Linked DNA regions of Homo sapiens. The protein of the gene in region 1 interacts with the protein of each later gene in a biochemical or structural test. Each region holds a gene or a part of one and is shown on either strand. Other genes may lie near its edges.

Region 1 (5,523 bases):
ATATATATATGTATACACACACTATAAATTCTGTTCCTTGTACCCTCTTTGTTTATTTAGAGACAGGGTCTCACTCTCACCCAGGCTGGAGTGCAGTGGTGCAATCTTGGCTCACTGCAATCTCCACCTCCTGGGCTCAAGTGATCCCCCTACCTTAGCCTCCCAAGTACCTGGGACTACAGGCACATGCCACCATGCCTGGCTAATTTTTGTAGAGACAGGGTCTTGCTCTGTTTCCCAGGCTGGTCTCGAATTCCTGGGCTCAAGCGATCTGCCTGCCTCTGCCTCCCAAAGTGCTGGGGTTATAGGTGGGAGCCGCCGCACCCAGCCCCTTATACCCTATTTAATAATCCAGTTTGTCCTGCAGTCCCCTGCACCATACTCTGCTTTTTTCCCAGTAATAGTATCATCTAAGATAATGCAATTGGCCACTTGCACTCCCTTTTACCACCCTCTACTTTTATTCTTTCTTTTCTTTCTTTTTTTTTTTTTTTTTTTCAGAGACAGGGTCTCATTCTGTCACTCAGGCTGCAGTGCAGTCATAGCTCACTGCAGCCTCAAACTCCTGGGTTCAAGAGATCCTACCACCTTAGCCTCCTGAGTAGCTGGGACTATAGGTGTACACTACCATGCTTGGCTCATTTTAAAATTTTTTGTAGAGGCCAGGCGTGGTGGCTCATGCCTGTAATCCTAGCACTTTGGGAGGCCGAGGCAGGCGGATCACGAGGTCAGGAGTTCAAGACCATCCTGGCCAACACAGTGAAACCCTGTCTCTACTAAAAATACAAAAATTAGCTGGGCGTGGTGGCGCGTGCCTGTAATCCCAGCTACTCGGGAGACTGAGGCAGGAGAATTGCTTGAACCGGGACCTGGGAGGCAGAGGCTGCAGTGAGCCAAGATTGCGCCACTGCACTCCAGCCTGGGCTACAGAGCAAGACTCCGTCTCAAAAAAAAAAAGTTTTTTGTAGAGATAAGATCTTCCTATGTTGCCCAGGCTTCTACTTTCATTCTCCAACATAGCTTATCTGCCTATTTTTATTGCTTGTTGTCTGTCTCCCTCCAGGACAAGGATTTTGTCCTTCTCTTCAGAGGTATTCCCAGCACCTACAACAGTGCCTGGCACATAGTAGCTGCACGATACATATTAGCTACTATAGTAAAGTCTACCTGACTACCCTATTTAATAGAATATTCCCCATGCTCAATCTGAATTCCTGATTCCCTTTAACCAACTTTTTTTCCTTTTTTTTTTTTTTTGCAATAGTGCTTATTACCTTTAAGACACTCTGTAACATACTATATTTATTATTTATTGTTAGTCTTTCTCTCCACACCTAGATTGTAAGTCTTATGAAAGCAAGGGCTTTTGTAGGCTTTTTTTTTTTTTTTTTTTTTTTTTTGAGACAGAGCCTCACTCTTCACCCAGGCTGGAGTACAAGGGCACAATCTGGGCTTACTGCAACCTCCGCCTCCAGGGTTCAAGCGATTCTTCTGCCTCAGCCTCCCAGGTAGCTGGGACTACAGGCGTGCGCCACCGTGCCCGGCTAATTTTTGTATTTTTAGTAGTGACGGGGTTTCACCATATTGGCCAGGCTAGTCTCGAACTCCTGACCTCGTGATCCGTCCGCCTCGGCCTCCCAAAGTACTGGGATTACAGGAGTGATCCACCGCGCCCGGCTGTAGGGTTTCTTATTCAGGTATTACCAACACCTAGGGAGTTGCCTGGCATACAGTAGGTAATTAATGGAGTATTTGATGAGCGCATGATGCATGGTGTAGTGCCGATGGAAGTGGGGTCAGAAGGCCTCCTGCCGCTGCGGCAGAATTCCCGTGTGGCCTTCTCCCACCAGGGCCTCAGTTTCCCCTCGCAGTTCCGATTCTCTGGCCGGCGCTGGGGTGGAGCCGGCGGGGCCGTCGTGCCGCCCGTGGCCGCTGGGGACGCTGGTGCCCTCCCGCCCCGCCCACTTCCCCGCCGGTCCGCCCCTGGCTAGAGAAGCCGCAGCCCGCAGTGTCCGACCCAGTCGTCCCGCGCCGGAGCCGGCCCCGTAGCGTGCCATGGCCTGCTACATCTACCAGCTGCCCTCCTGGGTGCTGGACGACCTGTGCCGCAACATGGACGCGCTCAGCGAGTGGGACTGGATGGAGTTCGGTGAGTGCGGCCCGGGGAGGGGAGGGGACCAGGGCGACCGGAGCCCCCAGCGATCCCGCCTGGAGCGGCCGCCAAGCTCCCTCGGGCACCCGGGTTCAGCGGGTCCCGATCCGAGGGCGTGCGAGCTGAGCCTCCTGGACCGGGTCCGCCGCGGACCTCGGCCTGTCACCTGAAGGTGCCGCGTGGTCTCTGAGGACGTCTGTCGACGAGCAGGGGCCGCCGCCACTGCGCTCTGAGTCCAGAGAACGGTGGGTACGGGGGCCCTCCTGTCAGCGCTGCTGGCTCGGTGACGTCCCCAGGTGGCCTCTCATCCAGCCCACAACAGCCTGCAAAGTGCGAGCCTCGACCCTGTAGGGACCCACGGTGCTGTCACTTCTTGGGGGGGTGTGTGTGTGTGTGTGTGTGGTGTGTTTAGTTTTAGTGTATATTAGAAGGATCTATGATTTAACATATATATATATATTGAAACGGAGTTTCGCTGTTGTTGCCCAGGCTGGAGTGCAATGGCACGGTCTCGGCTCACTGCAACCTCCACCTCTGGGATTCAAGCGATTTTCCTGCCTCGGCCTCCCGAGTAGCTGGGATTACAGGCGCCCGCTACCACCCTGGCTAATTTTTTGTATTTTCAGTAGAGACCGGGTTTCACCATGTTGGCCAGACTGGTCTTGAACTATTTTTTTTTTTTTTTTTTTTTTTTTTTAAGACGGAGTCTCACTCTGTCGCCCAGGCTGGAGTGCAGTGGCGCGATCTAGGCTCGTTGCAAGCTCCGCCTCCCGGGTTCACGCCATTCTCCTGCCTCAGCCTTCTGAGTAGCTGGGACTACAGGCGCCCGCCACCACGCCCGGCTAACTTTGTATTCTTAGTAGAGACGGGGTTTCACCGTGTTAGCCAGGATGGTCTGGATCTCCTGACCTTGTGATCCGCCCACCCTGGGCCTCCCAAAGTGCTGGGATTACAGGCATGAGCCACCGCGCCCGGCCTCCGGAACTCTTGATCTCAGGCGATCCACCTGCTTCGGCCTCCCAAAGTGCTGGGATTACAGGCGTGAGCCACTGTGCCCAGCCTATTTATCATATTTGTGATTAAATGTACTTTACCATTATAGTTTTAAAATCAGATATTTACTTTTAGTGTACATTGTTTTGATCACAGTATTTATGACTATCAACCTGTTTTGAGATCAGATGTGTCCTAATAGATTCAGTGTGTATAATGGGGCCTAAGCACAAGCACTTACTTTCACTCTATTGCAAGGTGCACAGTTCTAGATAATTCCGTGGGAAGGCACTCAGACAGCCTCCATATGTTTTGTTTGTTGGTGCCTGACGGATGACTGGCGGAGAGGGCCATGGACTCTGCGGGGAGGCCGCTTGCCTGTTGTCTCTGCTTTCCAGGTGGAGATCTGCATTCCAGGCTCTTGCTGTATGACTTTGGGCCAGTTTGTTAACCTCTCTGAGCCTCAGCTTCTGAATCTGTATGTAAACTGGAGATGATAATTATAGCTTCTTCATAAAGTTGTGAGGAATGAAAATACTGTATAAAAGCACTGACACCTAAGTGTTAAATATTCTTATAAGTCATAAGTTGTAATATTCTCTTTTCATTTTTATTTTTTTGAGACAGTCTCATTCTGTGGCCCAGGCTGGAATGCAGTGGCGAGATCTCGGCTCACTGCAGCTTCCGCCTCTTGGATTCAAGTGATTCTCTTGCCTCAGCCTCCCGAGTAGCTGGGATTACAGGCATGTGCCACCACGCCCACTAATTTTTATGTTTTTAGTAGAGATGGGGTTTCGCCATGTTGGCCAGGCTGGTCTCGAACTCCTGACCTCATGTGATTTGGCCGCTTTGGCCTCCCAAAGTGCTGGGATTACAGGCGTGAGCCACTGCTCCTGGACCTGGCTTCACTACTTTGAATGTTTCCTGGGCAGTGAACAAACTTTGTGTGAGACTCCCTCTCATTTTTTCCACATTGGCCCAGCCCTCAGTTACAAATGCCAGAACAACTTCTGTTTCTAGGAAATTCAATTAGAAGGCATACCTATGACTTAAAAAAAAAATAAAGCTTTACTGAGATATTCACATACCATACAATCCACCTGTTTCAGGAGTACAATTTAGTGGTATTTAGTATATTCACAGGGCTGTGTATCCATCTTCACAATCAATCTTAGAACATTTTAATCACCCGAAGAAGAAACTCTGTACCCGTTAACTTCCAATCCCCTCCTTCCATTTTCCTGAGTTTTAGACATTGCCTATTTTGGACATTTCATATAAATGGAATCATATAATATATAGTGCTCTGTGACTGACTTGTTTCAACTAACATGAGGTTCATCCATGTTGTAGCATGCGTCAATACTTAGTTTCTTTTTTTTTTTTTTGAGACGGAGTCTCGCTTTGTCACCCAGGCTGGAGTGCAGTGGCGCAATCTCGGCTCACTGCAAGCTCCACCTCCTGGGTTCATGCCATTCTCCTGCTTCAGCCTCCCTAGCAGCTTGGACTACAGGTGCCTGCCACCATGCCCGGCTAATTTTTTTGTATTTTTAGTAGAGATGGGGTTTCACTGTGTTAGCCAGGATGGTCTTGATCTCCTGACCGTGTAATCCACCTACCTCGGCTTCCCAAAGTGCTGGGATTACAGGCGTGAGCCACCGCGCCCAGCCAGTTTCTTTTTATTGTAGGATAATGTTCCATGGTATGGATATACTACATTTCATTCATTTATCAGTTGTTGGGCATTGGGTTCTTTTCACTTTTGGGCCATTGTGAATAGTGCTGCTGTGAACACTCACATACAAGATTTTGTGCAGTGGTGCAAATGTAGCTCACCGCAGCCCCAACTTCCTGGGCTCAAGCGATCTTCCTGTCTCCTGAGTAGCTGGACTACAGGTGTGCACTGCTGCACCCAGCTAACTTTTGTATTTTTTGTAGAGACAGGTTTCACCATGTTACTCAGGCTGATCTTGAACTCTGGAGCTCAAGCGATCTGCCCATCTCACCTTCCCAAATTGCTGGGATTACAGGTGTGAGCCACTGCATCTGGCTTTATGTTTAACTATTTGAGGAGCTACCAGATGTTTTCTAAAGTGGCTGAACCACCAGTGTATGAGGATGACCATTTCTCCACATCCTTGTCAACATGTGTTATTTTTTTCTTTTTTTAATTTTTTTTTTTTTGAGACAGAGTCTCGCTCTGTCGCTGAGGCTGGAGTGCAGTGGCATGATCTCGGCTCGCTGCAACCTTAGCCTCCTGGGTTCAAGCGATTCTTGTGCCTCAGCCTCCCAAGTAGCTGGGATTACAGGCATGCACCACCGTGCCTGACTAATTTTTGTATCTTCAGTAGAGACAGGGTTTCACCGTGTTGGCCAGG
Region 2 (4,862 bases), on another chromosome or scaffold:
CCGTCCTCGCTGACCCCCCGCTGAGGGCACGGCCGCCCCGTCCTCGCTGACCCCCCTCTGAGGGCACGGCCGCCCCGTCCTCACCGACCCACCTCTGAGGGCACGGCCGCCCCGTCCTCACCGACCCACCTCTGAGGGCACGGCCGCCCCGTCCTCACCGACCCACCTCTGAGGGCACGGCCGCCCCGTCCTCACCGACCCCCGAGGGCACGGCTGTCCCGTCCACGCCAACCCTCGCCGCACAGCTGAACTCTCCCCTCCTGTGCCCACATCTCTGGACTGCCAGGTCCTCTGTTTTCTATTCTTGTCCACATACAAGTTCCCTCCTTTCACTTCTAATCAAAGCTGTGGCCGGTCCTTTTAGGTCAAAACTGCCCCATTCTTGGGTCCTTAATTTTAGCGTGTTTCTTGGGTGGCCACAGCGTACTCCGGAATGCTATGGAGTGACAGTTTTCCGGAAGCTCCTGGGCGACAGGCATGCTCAGCCTCTAGCAGCTTCCAATTCCCTTCTGCTGCACACCCACACATCTGCTAGATCAGCTCTTACACTCCAAACTCTGCCCCTGTAAACTCCTTAGCAACTGCCCTATTTTCTGGAGAGTATGTAGCAGGAAAGTCTGAGACCAGCATGATTTTCCAAAGCTTTCAGGTAACTGTGCTGTCTCTGCCTAGCTGCTATGACTTATTTTTATTAATAACTTTAAAGGCTTTGAGCAAAGCCAGCTTTCTGGGTGGCACATGGGACTCCCCTGCCAGCATGCCCGTGCCTGTCACCGATGCCTGCTCACATTGGATCCTGCCTGCTTCTGCCACACTCAGCGTCATCCTCTCATTCCCATCTCCTCCCACTGCCCTCTGCACTGTGGCTAGAAAACTCTAGGATGAGCGTCCTGTGACATCAACTGCTCTGCTGAAGTGACCTCCTCGATGTTTATGGAAGCATCTGCCCATTCACTATGACTGCACACAACCACATGCTGTTCTGGTGCAGGAGACACTGTGGACACCGTGGGGACACACGGGCACCGCTGCCTCCCCCACAACGGGCAAGAGACGCACGTCAGACAGCAGACACCGTGGGGACACACGGGCACCGCTGCTTTCCCCACAATGGGCAAGAGATGCGCGGCAGACACACAGCGCAGCAGACGGCGTTACCACTGCAGGGAGTGACCAGCTAGGAGGACCGGGTATGCGGGCTGCAGGATCTGGAGGAAGAGCTGCAGGAAGCGGGAGGAGAACGGCCAGGGAAGAGGAAGGTCAGGAGTGACTAGGGTGAGGAAAACATGGGCCCAGCTGGAGCAGGCTCGGCAGGACAGTGCCCACGAGAAAGGCCCACGCGGGAACGGACCTACTCTGGCCACGCTGCAGGGGCTGAGCGGGGGCAGTGGGTGGGTGCGGGGGGCTCCAGGCCTGGACGGGCTGAAGGTGGCGCCTGTGCTGAGGGTCAGGCCTGAAGGGCAAGAGGTGGACATGAACCTGGAGCACCAGCAGCACGAGGGCTTTGGGCCTCAGCTTCCAGAGTGTGGGGCAGCCACCTGCGGACACGGGGGAGAAGCCGGGAGGGTGGCCCGAGAGCTCCACCTTGGGCACACGGAGTCCGGAGTGCCCACGGAACACCTGGGGAGGCCATGTGGCCATGGTCCGTACCTAGGGATCTGGGGTGGAGCTGAGTGGTCGGCTCAGGCTGGGGCCAGCACATGGGTGTTTAGACCCACAGGGATGCAGAAGTCACCGGGATGTGTGGGCAGAGAGGGGAGGAGGGCTGAGGACCAGACCCCTTGGCATCCCACTGGGGCCCCAGGAGACAACAAGGGGAAGCAGCGAGGGGACGCAAGCAGGGAACCACCTGTGTGGCCGCCCAGAAGCCAAGAGAAGCAGGAAACAGGGGCTGAGCTACCTGGCCCAGTGAGGAGGCAGGAATGTTTCCCACCACTGGAGCTGCGCCACAGAAGGCTGGGTGAGCTCACGTGGAGGAAACAGGCTGCCTGTGGTGGGCTCCAGGGTGCGGGAGAGGACCAAGGGGGGCCAGAGGCGTGGGCAACGCCAGGGCCACCTCCAAGGCCCAGCCAGCTCTGGAGCTTGAACTGTGTGAGGTGGAGTGCCCTGCGGTCACCAGGCCCTGCCAGGAGGTGGCGGCTGAGGACGGGTGATGGCACTGGCTGGCCTGGTGGCAGCTGGCACAGGAATGCATGGGCTTACGGGAGTTCACTGGGTGGGCAGAGGGATCGGCCACACCAGCACAGTAACAGCTGCACAAGCAAGGGTCTGAGACACGCCGCGAGGAAGGGGTGACGGTGTAGCTGTGCTCACCACACCATGAAGCCCCTGAAAGCAAGTCTTATTTGTGAGGTCCACGGCGATTCTTCTGCCTGCTGTATTTGTGCATTTCTATGAAAGCCGCGTGGCTCACAGTGTGTCTCCTTTCCCTGCATTTCTACGAAAGCCCGCGTGGCTCACAGTGTGTCTCCTTTCCCTGCATTTCTACAAAAGCCCGCATGGCTCAGTGTGTCTCCTTTCCCTGCATTTCTATGAAAGCCGTGTGGCTCACAGTGTGTCTCCTTTCCCTGCATTTCTACGAAAGCCCGCGTGGCTCACAGTGTGTCTCCTTTCCCTGCATTTCTACGAAAGCCCGCGTGGCTCACAGTGTGTCTCCTTTCCCTGCATTTCTACGAAAGCCCGCGTGGCTCACGGTGTGTCTCCTTTCCCTGCATTTCTACGAAAGCCCGCATGGCTCAGTGTGTCTCCTTTCCCTGCATTTCTACGAAAGCCGCGTGGCTCACAGTGTGTCTCCTTTCCCTGCATTTCTACGAAAGCCCGCGTGGCTCACAGTGTGTCTCCTTTCCCTGCATTTCTACGAAAGCCCGCGTGGCTCACGGTGTGTCTCCTTTCCCTGCATTTCTACGAAAGCCCGCGTGGCTCACGGTGTGTCTCCTTTCCCTGCATTTCTACGAAAGCCCGCGTGGCTCACGGTGTGTCTCCTTTCCCTGCATTTCTACGAAAGCCCGCGTGGCTCACGGTGTGTCTCCTTTCCCTGCATTTCTACGAAAGCCCGCGTGGCTCACGGTGTGTCTCCTTTCCCTGCATTTCTACGAAAGCCCGCGTGGCTCACGGTGTGTCTCCTTTTCCTGCATTTCTACGAAAGCCCGCGTGGCTCACGGTGTGTCTCCTTTTCCTGCATTTCTACGAAAGCCCGCGTGGCTCACGGTGTGTCTCCTTTCCCTGCATTTCTACGAAAGCCCGGGTGGCTCACGGTGTGTCTCCTTTCCCTGCATTTCTACGAAAGCCCGCGTGGCTCACGGTGTGTCTCCTTTCCCTGCATTTCTACGAAAGCCCGCGTGGCTCACGGTGTGTCTCCTTTCCCTGCATTTCTACGAAAGCCTGCGTGGCTCACAGTGTGTCTCCTTTCCCTGCATTTCTACGAAAGCCTGCGTGGCTCACAGTGTGTTTCCTTTTCCTGCAGTCTTACAGACGGTTTTCGTGTGATCAAAATCGGCGTTCAATCTGCCGATTTTGGCTTTCACTTGAAAGACCACTAAGCAACCACGGGCCGGCCCCGAGGCTGACCGAGGGCTGCTCTGTGGGGAGGGAGGGTGCAGGCACCGGCACTGAGGCCAACAGGAAGCCACTCACGCAGCACACACCAGGTGGCGGGGGTGCCGGCCGCGCCTCCTCCAGCTGCCGGCGGGGGTCCGGGAGGTGTCCTTGGGCGTACTCAAGCCTGGTGGAAGAGCCAGGCCCTACACAGAGCAGACGCCCACCTACACCCACTACTCATCACTTGAGTTATGTTTGGTAGAACCCGGGGTCAATGCCAATATCTTTCACACAGATCGTTTTCAACATCACACAGGTTTCAGGAAAAGCGGGAATCAGAAGTTCTGTTTGCCCGCTTAGGAAATGCAGTATAAACGCCGAAATCCGAAATCCCACCCCCACCGAGCGCACCAGCCCCAGGCAGGCAGGAGGGTGCCCCAAGGCCCACCTGTACCACCGTGATGTTCAGTCGGCCCACGGTGCCCACTGCGCCTCCGTACTGCAGCTGCTGGGCCGCCTGGGCGTCCAGCTGGACCTGCCGCTGCTGCTGTGTGGGCGTGATGCGGAGGAAGTCCTGCGGGAGCTCACCGATGTACACCTGCGGGGCCGGGGACCAGAGAGGCCAGTGAGTCAGGGTGGGGGCACAAAGCAGCCCGACAGCAGCTGCCCCCGGCATTCCCGCGGCCCCGCCCCCACCCATGTCCTTATCAAGTCCTGGACTGTGCTCAGCCTCAGTTTCCTCATCTCTAAACGGAGGGGTCAAGGGTGTCCAGCCTGGGGCCTGGCCCCCAGCGGTACAGGTGCAGCCCTCACTCAGGAGATCCCCAAATGCAGGTTTCTGCCGCTAAAAATGGGTTCCTGTCCTCAAAGCCTGCTCAGGTGGGTTTTCAGGTCATTTTAAAGGGTCTCCCTTGCACCATGTGTGCCCACGGCTTCTTTCTCCTTGTCCACAGCTAAAGGCAGGGCCACTGAACTGCAGGTCACTTGGTCAAACGAATGAGACAAAAGCTGAGCCTCAGGTCTAAAGTGATTTGGAAAACCCTCTGCTGATATACTTCAAATGTTTCCACATGAAACAGCTGAAATTCAAAAGTATCCCAGAAGAACGCAGGAAGTAAATCGATTCCAAACAACCACGAAAGACCTCCCCACTCTGCATCCTATGTCTCCTCGACCCTCTGTCCACCACTGCCACTTCTGAGGGGAAGAGAGAGGATGGGCCCAGGCAGGACAATGCCATCCCGAAACCACCCGCACACCTGCAGCGGCCGAAGGGGCCTGGGGTAAACCATGCTCCACAGGTGAAAGGTCGCTGATGAGGCCCT

What was found. The genes of interacting proteins can lie anywhere in the genome.
Region 2: the proteins of IRAK2 (region 1) and TOLLIP form a complex in vitro, tested with the Homo sapiens proteins (one study listed by BioGRID).

Annotation. Positions count from the first base shown.
Region 1 is NC_000003.12:10,162,900-10,168,422, forward strand, and holds the start of IRAK2 (interleukin-1 receptor-associated kinase-like 2), read left to right. Parts: upstream 1-2,019; 5' UTR 2,020-2,055; coding exon 2,056-2,149; intron 2,150-5,523. UniProt on the Homo sapiens protein: Binds to the IL-1 type I receptor following IL-1 engagement, triggering intracellular signaling cascades leading to transcriptional up-regulation and mRNA stabilization.
Region 2 is NC_000011.10:1,291,660-1,296,521, forward strand, and holds part of TOLLIP (toll-interacting protein), read right to left. Parts: coding exon of another isoform or gene 4,797-4,862; intron 4,136-4,796; coding exon 3,986-4,135; intron 1-3,985. UniProt on the Homo sapiens protein: Component of the signaling pathway of IL-1 and Toll-like receptors. Inhibits cell activation by microbial products. Recruits IRAK1 to the IL-1 receptor complex. Inhibits IRAK1 phosphorylation and kinase activity.